Homo sapiens: one gene and its partners. The protein of the gene in region 2 purifies or fractionates together with the protein of the main gene of each other region. This does not show direct contact. Each region holds a gene or a part of one and is shown on either strand. Other genes may lie near its edges. The genes, in order: GULP1, PSD4 and TYMS.

Region 1 (3,653 bases), about 75 Mb from region 2:
AGGAAAACCAAACATATCGTTGAGTTTACATAGAAATACAATTTTCAACCAGATCTTCATAAAAACGCACTGGAGAAATAAATGTTCATAATTAATGACCAGTTATGTACTATTTCATCATGCCAGTAGCAGAGTTGATTACCATTAAAAATTGGTAAAGTAACATATCTTAAATGTGCAAATACCATCTTAGTACTCCATTGTGTTACCATTGATAATAAATGGCCACTAAATATATACCTATTACATAAATCTTTTTAAAGTACAATAAAAATACAAATTCTATCTGTTAAAAAAAGCCACTTATATGGCTTCTAAACATCCTTATTATACAAATTCCAAAATACTATCTGACAAACAAAATTATAAAGACTCTTCTTTATGAAACATATATTGCCCTCTAATTAAGGTACAACTTAGCAGATAAAAGAAACTAAACAAGAAGGCTCATATATACCATATAACATTAAGGAAAAACACACAAATATATATTGCATAAGCATATTTGATTTCTTTTCCTAGTGAAAATGTACCTTTAACACTTGAAGAAAATTCCAATGAGTAAATGATAAATCTATTTTTGAGGGCTACCCCTACTCTAAGTCACATTTTCATTAATTTAATTTATTTATCTTATAATGTGATGAACCAAGTTAGAAATTTTGACCATAAATTTTTGTTTTACTGAGTACAAATTAGTCTGTTAGGTAAAGGGTAAAGGTATAGGAAACAAATATTTTTAAAAGTCCAGGTTCATCAGCACATCAATAATGAAATGCAAGAGAATTTTATTGCTCATGTTCAAGACTAAACTGAGCAGTAACTGGGTTTTTTTTTTTTTTTTGGAAAATGAGATTTTTGACTTTAACAAAACAAATACAGATTGAATTTACCAAATATTGATAATTCATGTAGAACGGGTGCCACAGATTTTAAAGTATCAAAACCAAGAGGGCATCACAAAATAAACTTTGGTGAAAAATATCTTCATCAAAGAAGAAAATATGAGAAGAGTAGTCCTTATGCAGTGAGGAGAAATATATTTGGTAAAGTAAATATGGGTAGTAGATACTGAATCTATAGATAGCATATATTCCAAATGTTTTTTAGGGAATATCAAATCAGATGATGCTTAGATGTTATAGTAATATCACTTATCTCATTTGGAATGAAATTTAATGTTTTTTAATAAATAGCAAATTTTCATTTTTTCACTACCTTTATAAAACAAATTAAATATTTAGAGTATAACTGATCATAACTAACATCACCTTGCATTTACTAATAAATACTCTAAATACATTTGGTTTATTATTGGAATTTATATCCTTATAATTTTACCTGCTAGAAATTAGTGACCTTGTGGCATTATGTTTAAAGTTTACATTTTCCCAGTGATGTGAACAGTATTTATACATAAAATGATATCTGTCCAATGAATAGTAACATGTTTGTTGGTTTAAAAACAGAACATGTTTAGTTTGACATTGGCATGTCTCTTCAGAATTTAAAAAGTTATCTTTAAGGTATGGCTTTTGGGAAATCATTAATAAACTAGCCATCTGGAAAATGAATACAAATTTCAAGATGCTAACTAAATAGAACTCAGACACAAGGCAGGTATTTGTATAATATGTCTTTCAATTACAAATTCATCTACAGTAGAAACAGAAAGGAACATAAAAGTATGATCTACTTTACAGTAAGCTGTTTTTAAAATAAAAATTACAGATCAATAGTGAAGGTGAGGAAATTTAACTGAGAAAATTTTCAAAATATTAAAATATTCAAAAACATTGACACATGAATAATACCTATCTTAAAGTAATAATAATAAATGACATGTGTATACAAACACATTTAACATGAATCAGGATTTCTTGTTCTTGATGTCAGCACCTACTGTCTAACGGGTCGAGACAAAATACTGTGCCTTCAAGAGTTAGTCCCATTTTGAACCCCTCCTGTAAAACAGAATAAAATAATTAATATCTGAAATGCTTACAGCAAAATAAAATCAGTGAATAAAAAAGACTATGCACTAAAGTTGAAATATTCATGCTTTGATCAACTAATAAATAACTATATGTCAAATGTTGACTTGCTGAATTTTTATATAGGTGTATAGCACTGGTAGTTCTTTCAGACCCATTAACACTTTAATGTTTTAAATCTATGTGAGGTTAGCATGCATGAGAGACAGAAGAGAAAACATAAAATTAAGATAAAGGTTTCTTTTTCAGAAAAGGCTAGTTACTACATCATTCTATTGTAAATGAAATCTGTTAGCTTTAAAAATTATTATTAATTTAAATATTATTAAGATAGTTAGGCTTCAAATTGATGAGAGGTTCAAGATAGCCTGATGATTTTCACCTTATTCCTGGTTAGCACTGACCAGAGCCCGGGTAAAATACTTCTTTTAAATGCAATGCCGTATCCTCTGTGGAACACACAACTGCAGATTACTTTGCCATGGAGAAAACTTCCCCTACTAGCCTTGCTGTTGCTTGTAGCGGACTGGCTTCTTTGACTCCTACTCTTCCTTGCATATTTTAGAAGTTAAGTTGTCTATGATTTATTGAGTATAAGAACACAATTGCTAAGAAAGTGTTTTTCCACCAAGATTTTGAATTAAAATAATGGCATAGGAGTCTGTCCTCCTTCACTCCAATCTCTTTTTTTTTTATTGCATAAGATAATTGAACTGTGGGCCATCTCCAGTCTTGCCACCTCTCCCCATTCCTACCCTTTCCTGTAAATCTATACACATTGGCCTACAAAAAGATGAAAAGCACAGACTTGCACTGATCAATGAAAGTGGAGGTTACATTGTAGGTCTCCTTGTAGAAGCAAATGTGGTAGTGCTCTCTACATACTCTACCTTTTTTTTCTTACTAACAGAACTGAAATGTTTCAGAAAGGTAATTTGTAATTTGGAGTGGCCATGCAACACATTATTGGCAAATAATATGCAGATAGCAGTGTATTCCTAAAGAAAACAAAATGTCTCCTAAAGGTAACCATTGGTTTTCACCTCTGCTTTGGGTGTTTTATTTAATTGGACTGACTATATCTACTTGTATGTTAGCTAATTGGGTATCTTTTTGCATCTCTCCAAATTACTTTTATTTAGAATAATTATGTAAATGTTCTTATCTTTCTATAAATCCAATGTAAACATCATCATATAGAGGAGGAAGGTAGTTACAAAGCTGTAAGCCATACTTTATTTGTTATTAATGTTCAAAGAATATTCTTTATGTTTACAGCACAGAGACTACTACTATATAGCAATTACAGTGATGTAATCATTGTGAAAGTTTTTCAAAATGTCTTTCCAGTACTTGGAATACAATCTTTATTTAGTTGAGTAAATATGAGACTACTTATCATTATTTTTTAAAAATCTATTCTTATCACAAAATACATTTTGCCATATTTATTTATATTTTTCAAACAGCCAGCAAATACTTAGAAAAATAAATACTTTAAACTAAAATACTGTAAGTAAACTTTTCTTTAAAATTATTTTATTTGGATATCTGAAGATCTGTATATTATGTCATCTTCTGGTATATTACAAATGGTAAATAGATGATACATTGATAGATAATGACAGATAGAAAGAGAGTTACATGTGGAAATGTTTG
Region 2 (3,653 bases):
GTGCAGTGAGCTGTACATCTAGGTTTGTGTAGGTTCACTCTATAATGTTCACACAATAGTGAAAATGCCCAACGATGCATTTCTCAGAACACACCTTCATCGTTAAGTGATGCGTGACTGTGATGAAACAGCAAATGATTTTAATTGCTTATGACACACATGCTATGTGCCAAGCACCGTGCTGAGCACTTGGAAGATTTCATTTCATCTTGATAATGGCATGGTAAGTGGTTAATACTCTCAGGAAGAACTTGAGTTGGCCAAGAGGGGGCAAATTGCCCAAGACTAGAATTCAAACCCAGGAACACCAGGCTCCCAAGTCTGAGCTCCAGACTTTCACCATGTGTAGCTTTGCCCTTCTCAGACTTTGAAGGGGTAAGAATGACTTGAAAACTTAAGAAAATATTTTAGGGGTCCCAGTCTCAGAGAGTCTGATTCAATAAGTCCAGCACAGGGAGCCTGCAGATTTGCATGGATAACAAATTCCAAGATGCTTCTGATGCTGCCCGCCAGGGAATACACTTTTACTAGCCCTTCAATAAACAAGTCCTGTTCTCTCAAGGATATTTTGGCAAAGCCAGTCCCAAGCTCAGCATCTCCCTTGGAACAAAGAACCAAGGCTCCAGGTCCTACATGAGGCTCATAAGAAGACCCCGTGGCACATACCTTCAGCAGCTCCTTGGGGAAGTTCCCGCCATCCCTCAGCCCATTCAGGTTGGTTATGAATTCCTGGCAGCTCATGCTCTTCCCAATGTTCTGTAGCCACGGAGAAGTGGGATGACTCGAGCACACACCCCATCCCAATAGAATAACCTCCCAGCCAGCAACCATGGAACCCTTTCCAGCTCCCCAGGCCCACATCCCTCAGGGGTGTTCCCTGCCCGGTCTCAGGCCTCTGGTCTTCTCCTCCCCGCACCCCTTGTTACAGCCTCAGTTCCCACAGGGACTCTCTCCACCGTCTTACCTGTCCATGCAGGTCCGTGTTAAGCAGCATGATTGCACATGTCAAGGTGTGTACAGAATCTACCCCAGAGATAGGTAAGTGGAGAGAAAGCTCATTGGAACCAGGGCTCCTGTTTCCTCTGCCCACACTGCGTGGGGTAACCGAATAACCCCTGGAATGCTTCCATTCTCCACAGCCCCCAACACACTCCCACCAGTTCACTGTCACCTACTGAACTCCCAAGCAGACATGGGCACCCCAAAGTTTCCCTGCTTTGCTGTCAGGGCCAGCCCCTCCCTACCTACTGAGGGGAAGATCCCCGGATTGCAATGGTGGAAGCGTCTGGAGAACTGGTAGAGGATTCGCTCCCGTTCCTGAGTCTCCCCACTGAGCACCAAGGCCTGGAGGAAGCTCCTGCAAAGGAGGGCCAGGGTCAAGGAGAGAGCCCGGGAGCTTAGGGCCAATCAGATCCCAGCCTCAGGCTGGTGCCACTGCCCCATGCCATCCTCCACAGCCTCCCCAGAGAGGGCCCAAAGACATTACCGGAGGGCTCGGTCCAGACTCTGGCCTCCAAACTGGAAGAAGGACAGGTACTCCTCAGCCACAGCCCTGCTAAAGTCATTGCTGCAGAGGGAAAAGGGGCATGGAGTCTGCACCAGGGGCCTGGGCTGGGGCTGCAGATGCACTGGGGCCCCCAGGGCCTGCACACATTATGCGGTGGGGGTGAGCAAGGGAAGGGTGCAGGCACGCTGGGCCTTGGGTCCTGACAGAGCAAGGGGGCAGCCAGGGTCTGGTATGCCCTGCTACCCTATTCAGTGTACACTGGGAGACACTGGGAGAGACCTGTGGAGTCTGGTTGGCAAGGCAGTGGGGACCAAGGACCAAGGGTGTGGAGAGCATGAGGACCATGACTGAGAGTAAGCAGCAGATACAGTGAGGGTATGGGGGAAAAGTTAGGAGGGGAGATGGGAAGGGAACAGGGCAGGGACGGGAAGGGGAGGGTGGCCAGTGGAGGGAGCCCTTCAGCAGCTCCTCCCTGGCTGCCTCAGCCTCCAGCCTTCCCCAGGCTCAAAGCCCCTTACTTCTTCTGCAGGTAGGCAGCCACTTCAGACTTCCGGAAGCCCTCCAGGCGATAGAGGCGTGAGGCCAAGTTCCAGGCTACCTTGTTGTTCCTGACGCCATTAGCTAGCTTGTCTCCAGCTGGTGGTCTCTGGCCTTCCTCTGGGGACTGTGCTTGGGGCATAGGGCTCCCAGGAAGCCAAGAAGAGTTCATCGGTGTCCTCAGATTCTCACTTGAGATAGACATGCAGGAGCTCTGGGTCAAGTGTTCTTGCAGGTCAGTTGTGGCAAGAGTTCCCCGAGCTCAGCGCCTTGAATGGTGGGGCCCGGAGGAGCTGGACCCAGGCCCTTACTCAGGGAAGAGACAGAGTCACAGCCAGACTGACTTAGCCTGGCCTGGGACCAGGAGAACCCCGAGAGGAAGGTATTCATGCAAGGTCTCCAGGTCTGGGGTCCTGCGCTTTCTCAGGTAAAGCACAGCCATGTTCCGAGTTTATCTCACCTCAGGTGGCAGGTGCATCCCTGTGAGGCCCCTAGCGTTGTTTTCTCCAATGCAAGGCACGTGGGATTGTCTCCCTCACCTGTCCTGTGGTCCTCCTGTACCTCCTTGTCCCTTCCCCACCTCCCAGCTCTGGCTCTAGCCTCCACTCCTAGATCTGGAGCCAAGAAACCTGTAAGGATGAGCTGAGAACAGGAAGCTAGGTGGGCTCTAGTAATGGCAGCAGCTGGGGTAGTTCAGGAGGTGGTCCTCAGCCTCTCCCTTCCCCCACCTAGCAGCCTGGATGACAAGGAGACTGAGTGGTGACCTATGACCTAGTGTGAACAGGCCTGGGTGACCCCCAGCCGACTCAGAACCTCCCAGTCCAGCACTAAGACTCTCAGATGTCACTCAATCCAATCTAAACCTGACTCTTCTGCTTCCCCGACAACATTACAATCAAGTGTGGGGTATTCCAGTTATTTAAACATTCATTATTCAAGTGATACAATTAGGAAGTTGAACTGGTAAGCAGAAGACATCATAATATGAAAACATTCCAGGGGCCTGGGCGCAGTACTCAGCCTGTAATCCTACTGCTTTGGGAGGCCAAGGCAAGTGGATCACTTGAGGCCAGGAGTTCGAAGCCAGCCTGGCCATCATGGCGAAACGCTGTCTCTACTAAAAATACAAAAATTAGGCAGGGTGGCACATGCCTGTAGTCCCAGCTACTCAGGAGGCTAAGGCAGGAGAATCACTTGAACCCAGGAGGCGGAAATTCCAGTGAGCTGATATTGTGACACTGCACACCAGCCTGGGCAACAGAGCAAGATGCCGTCTAAAAGAAAAAAAAGAAAACAATCCCTGATAAACAGATATATAACATTAGAATTCACTTAAACACCCTCACTATCTAACACAGCTGGGTCAGGGTTAATGGGAGGGTTAACCCCATGCCCATCACAAGGTCTTTGGGTGATGGTGACAGAATGTCAATCAGTGCCAGAAACCAAAGAACCATCTTCCTTATGCATCTGGAAACTAGGCTGCCCCGTGGAGAGGTTCAGAGGCTTGGTAGCCAGAGAAGTTCCAGCCTCTGAAAAGGGAAGTTTCTTCATGCCAAAAATTAAAGTTCACCCAACCCAAAATAGAAGTAACTAAATCTAACTAAAA
Region 3 (3,653 bases), on a different chromosome or scaffold from region 2:
CAACTGAGGTGCAGGCAACGACCTGCAGAACACTTACCTGCACAAGTAACTTGGCCCACGCAGCAGCTTTTTTCATTGTGATAAAGTACACATAATATTAAACTTGCCATTTTTGTGTGCAATTCAGAAGCATTAAGCACGTTCCTGATGTTAGGCAACCATCACCATCACCCATCTCCATCACCATCACCATCACCATCACCATCACCATCACCATCTCCATCACCATCACCATCTCCATCACCATCACCATCACCATCTCCATCACCATCACCATCACCATCACCATCTCCATCACCATCACCATCACCATCACCATCACCATCTCCATCATCACCATCACCATCACCATCACCATCTCCATCACCATCACCATCACCATCACCATCACCATCTCCATCACCATCACCATCACCATCACCATCTCCATCACCATCACCATCTCCATCACCATCTCCATCACCATCACCATCTCCATCACCATCACCATCACCATCTCCATCACCATCCCATCACCATCACCATCTCCATCACCATCACCATCACCATCTCCATCTCCATCACCATCACCATCTCCATCACCATCACCATCACCATCTCCATCACCATCACCATCACCATCACCATCTCCATCACCATCACCATCACCATCACCATCTCCATCACCATCACCATCACCATCTCCATCTCCATCTCCATCACCATCACCATCTCCATCACCATCACCATCTCCATCTCCATCACCATCACCATCTCCATCACCATCTCCATCTCCATCACCATCACCATCTCCATCACCATCACCATCTCCATCTCCATCACCATCTCCATCTCCATCACCATCACCATCTCCATCACCATCACCATCTCCATCACCATCACCATCTCCATCACCATCTCCCGAACTTTTTCGTCATCCCTAACAAAACCTCTGTGCCCATTAAACATGAACTCCCCATTCCTCCCTGTTCCCCAGTCCCTGGAAACTAGCATTCCACTTTCTGCCTTTAAGAACTTGCCTATTCTAGGTCCACACAGCATTTTTAAACTTCCTGAAGTTGCTAACATTTAACAGATCTCATGACCGCACATAAAATATAGATTTTAGGCTTTTATTGAAGAATTCTGACATCACCAGGCCCAAATTCCTCCAGGTGGCTGGAGGTGAAATGTGACTGTCCCCTTAGATGAGACACCTGCTCTCCAGGTTGCTGGTCTCTGCCCAGCTAGTAAATTGCACACACAAACCCCACATTCCAAGGTGGCATCTGCTTTTCCTAGGGACAGGTGGGAGGGGCTGGGCTCTGTGACATCCAGTAAGAGGTGACACCAACAGTGACAGGAAAGTGGAAGTCCAGGAGTGAGATGTTTCATTCTTTCTCCACCTCTGCAGAGCTGGGAGTGGAGTGTGACCCTGGCACTGCGCTTCACAGCAGCGCCACCTACAGCACGCTGTGGCTCAGCCTCGAAAGGGAGATTAAAGCCACAACAAAGCAATGGGGGCATTTTGTCCCTTGTCCCACCGATGAACTTCCCATTCCCCAGCACGAACACCAACCATGCAGCTATCTGCCGATGACACAGTATGGAAAGTGCCAAGCGCCCAGTAAGTGCCAATCATCTGACCTACAAAGAGACTTAGACTCCCACACATTAATAATGGGAGACTTTAACACCCCACTGTCAACATTAGACAGATCAACGAGACAGAAAGTTAACAAGGATACCCAGGAATTGAACTCAGCTCTGCACTAAGCGGACCTAATAGACATCTACAGAACTCTCCACCCCAAATCAACAGAATATACATTTTTTTCAGCACCGCACCACACCTATTCCAAAATTGACCACATAGTTGGAAGTAAAGCTCTCCTCAGCAAATGTAAAAGAACAGAAATTATAACAAACTATCTCTCAGACCACAGTGCAATCAAACTAGAACTCAGAACTAAGAAACTCACTCAAAACTGCTCAACTACATGGAAACTGAACAACCTGCTCCGGAATGACTACTGGGTACATAACGAAATGAAGGCAGAAATAAAGATGTTCTTTGAAACCAACGAGAACAGAGACACAACATACCAGAATCTCTGGGACACATTCAAAGCAGTGTGTAGAGGGAAATTTATAGCACTAAATGCCCACAAGAGAAAGCAGGAAAGATCCAAAATTGACACCCTAACATCACAATTAAAAGAACTAGAAAAGCAAGAGCAAACACATTCAAAAGCTAGCAGAAGGCAAGAAATAACTAAAATCAGAGCAGAACTGAAGGAAATAGAGACACAAAAAACCCTTCAAAAAATTAATGAATCCAGGAGCTGGTTTTTTGAAAGGATCAACAAAATTTATAGACCGCTAGCAAGACTAATAAAGAAAAAGAGAAGAATCAAATAGACGCAATAAAAAATGATAAAGGGGATATCACCACCAATCCCACAGAAATACAAACTACCATCAGAGATTACTACAAACACCTCTACGCAAATAAACTAGAAAATCTAGAAGAAATGGATAAATTCCTTGACACATACACTCTCCCAAGACTAAACCAGGAAGAAGTTGAATCTCTGAATAGACCAATAACAGGAGCTGAAATTGTGGCAATAATCAATAGCTTACCAACCAAAAAGAGTCCAGGACCAGATGGATTCACAGCCGAATTCTACCAGAGGTACAAAGAGGAACTGGTACCATTCCTTCTGAAACTATTCCAATCAATAGAAAAAGAGGGAATCCTCCCTAACTCATTTTATGAAGCCAGCATCATCCTGATACCAAAGCTGGGCAGAGACACAACCAAAAAAGAGAATTTTAGACCAATATCCTTGATGAACATTGATGCAAAATTCCTCAATAAAATACTGGCAAACCGAATCCAGCAGCACATCAAAAAGCTTATCCACCATGATCATGTGGGCTTCATCCCTGGGATGCAAGGCTGGTTCAATATACACAAATCAATAAATGTAATCCAGCATATAAACAGATCCAAAGACAAAAACCACATGATTATCTCAATAGATGCAGAAAAGGCCTTTGACAAAATTCAACAACACATCATGCTAAAAACTCTCAATAAATTAGGTATTGATGGGACATATTTCAAAATAATAAGAGCTATCTATGACAAACCCACAGCCAATATCATACTGAATGGGCAAAAACTGGAAGCATTCCCTTTGAAAACTGGCACAAGACAGGGATGCCCTCTCTCACCACTCCTATTCAACATAGTGTTGGAAGTTCTGGCCAGGGCAATTAGGCAGGAGAAGGAAATAAAGGGTATTCAATTAGGAAAAGAGGAAGTCAAATTGTCCCTGTTTGCAGACGACATGATTGTATATCTAGAAAACCCCATTGTCTCAGCCCAAAATCTCCTTAAGCTGATAAGCAACTTCAGCAAAGTCTCAGGATATAAAATCAATCTGCAAAAATCACAAGCATTCTTATACACCAATAACAGACAAACAGAGAGCCAAATCATGAGTGAACTTCCACTCACAATTGCTTCAAAGAGAATAAAATACCTAGGAATCCACCTTAAAAGGGATGTGAAGGACCTCTTCAAGGAGAACTACAAACCACTGCTCAATGAAATAAAAGAGGATACAAAGAAATGGAAGACCATTCCATGCTCATGGGTAGGA

The links.
Region 1: the proteins of PSD4 (region 2) and GULP1 purify together in Homo sapiens (affinity purification with mass spectrometry; one large-scale study listed by BioGRID and IntAct). This does not show direct contact.
Region 3: the proteins of PSD4 (region 2) and TYMS purify together in Homo sapiens (affinity purification with mass spectrometry; one large-scale study listed by BioGRID and IntAct). This does not show direct contact.

The regions. Positions count from the first base shown.
Region 1 is NC_000002.12:188,592,251-188,595,903, reverse strand, and holds part of GULP1 (PTB domain-containing engulfment adapter protein 1), read right to left. Parts: intron 1,965-3,653; coding exon 1,893-1,964; 3' UTR 1-1,892. UniProt on the Homo sapiens protein: May function as an adapter protein. Required for efficient phagocytosis of apoptotic cells. Modulates cellular glycosphingolipid and cholesterol transport. May play a role in the internalization and endosomal trafficking of various LRP1 ligands, such as PSAP.
Region 2 is NC_000002.12:113,190,962-113,194,614, reverse strand, and holds part of PSD4 (PH and SEC7 domain-containing protein 4), read right to left. Parts: intron 2,236-3,653; coding exon 2,026-2,235; intron 1,568-2,025; coding exon 1,487-1,567; intron 1,358-1,486; coding exon 1,245-1,357; intron 1,024-1,244; coding exon 965-1,023; intron 757-964; coding exon 667-756; intron 1-666. UniProt on the Homo sapiens protein: Guanine nucleotide exchange factor for ARF6 and ARL14/ARF7. Through ARL14 activation, controls the movement of MHC class II-containing vesicles along the actin cytoskeleton in dendritic cells. Involved in membrane recycling.
Region 3 is NC_000018.10:664,137-667,789, reverse strand, and holds part of TYMS (thymidylate synthase), read right to left. Parts: coding exon of another isoform or gene 2,514-3,653; exon of another isoform or gene 1,394-2,513; intron 954-1,393; exon of another isoform or gene 111-953; coding exon of another isoform or gene 38-110; intron 1-37. Other genes in the region: ENOSF1 (mitochondrial enolase superfamily member 1), read left to right, coding at 2,514-3,653. UniProt on the Homo sapiens protein: Catalyzes the reductive methylation of 2'-deoxyuridine 5'-monophosphate (dUMP) to thymidine 5'-monophosphate (dTMP), using the cosubstrate, 5,10- methylenetetrahydrofolate (CH2H4folate) as a 1-carbon donor and reductant and contributes to the de novo mitochondrial thymidylate biosynthesis pathway.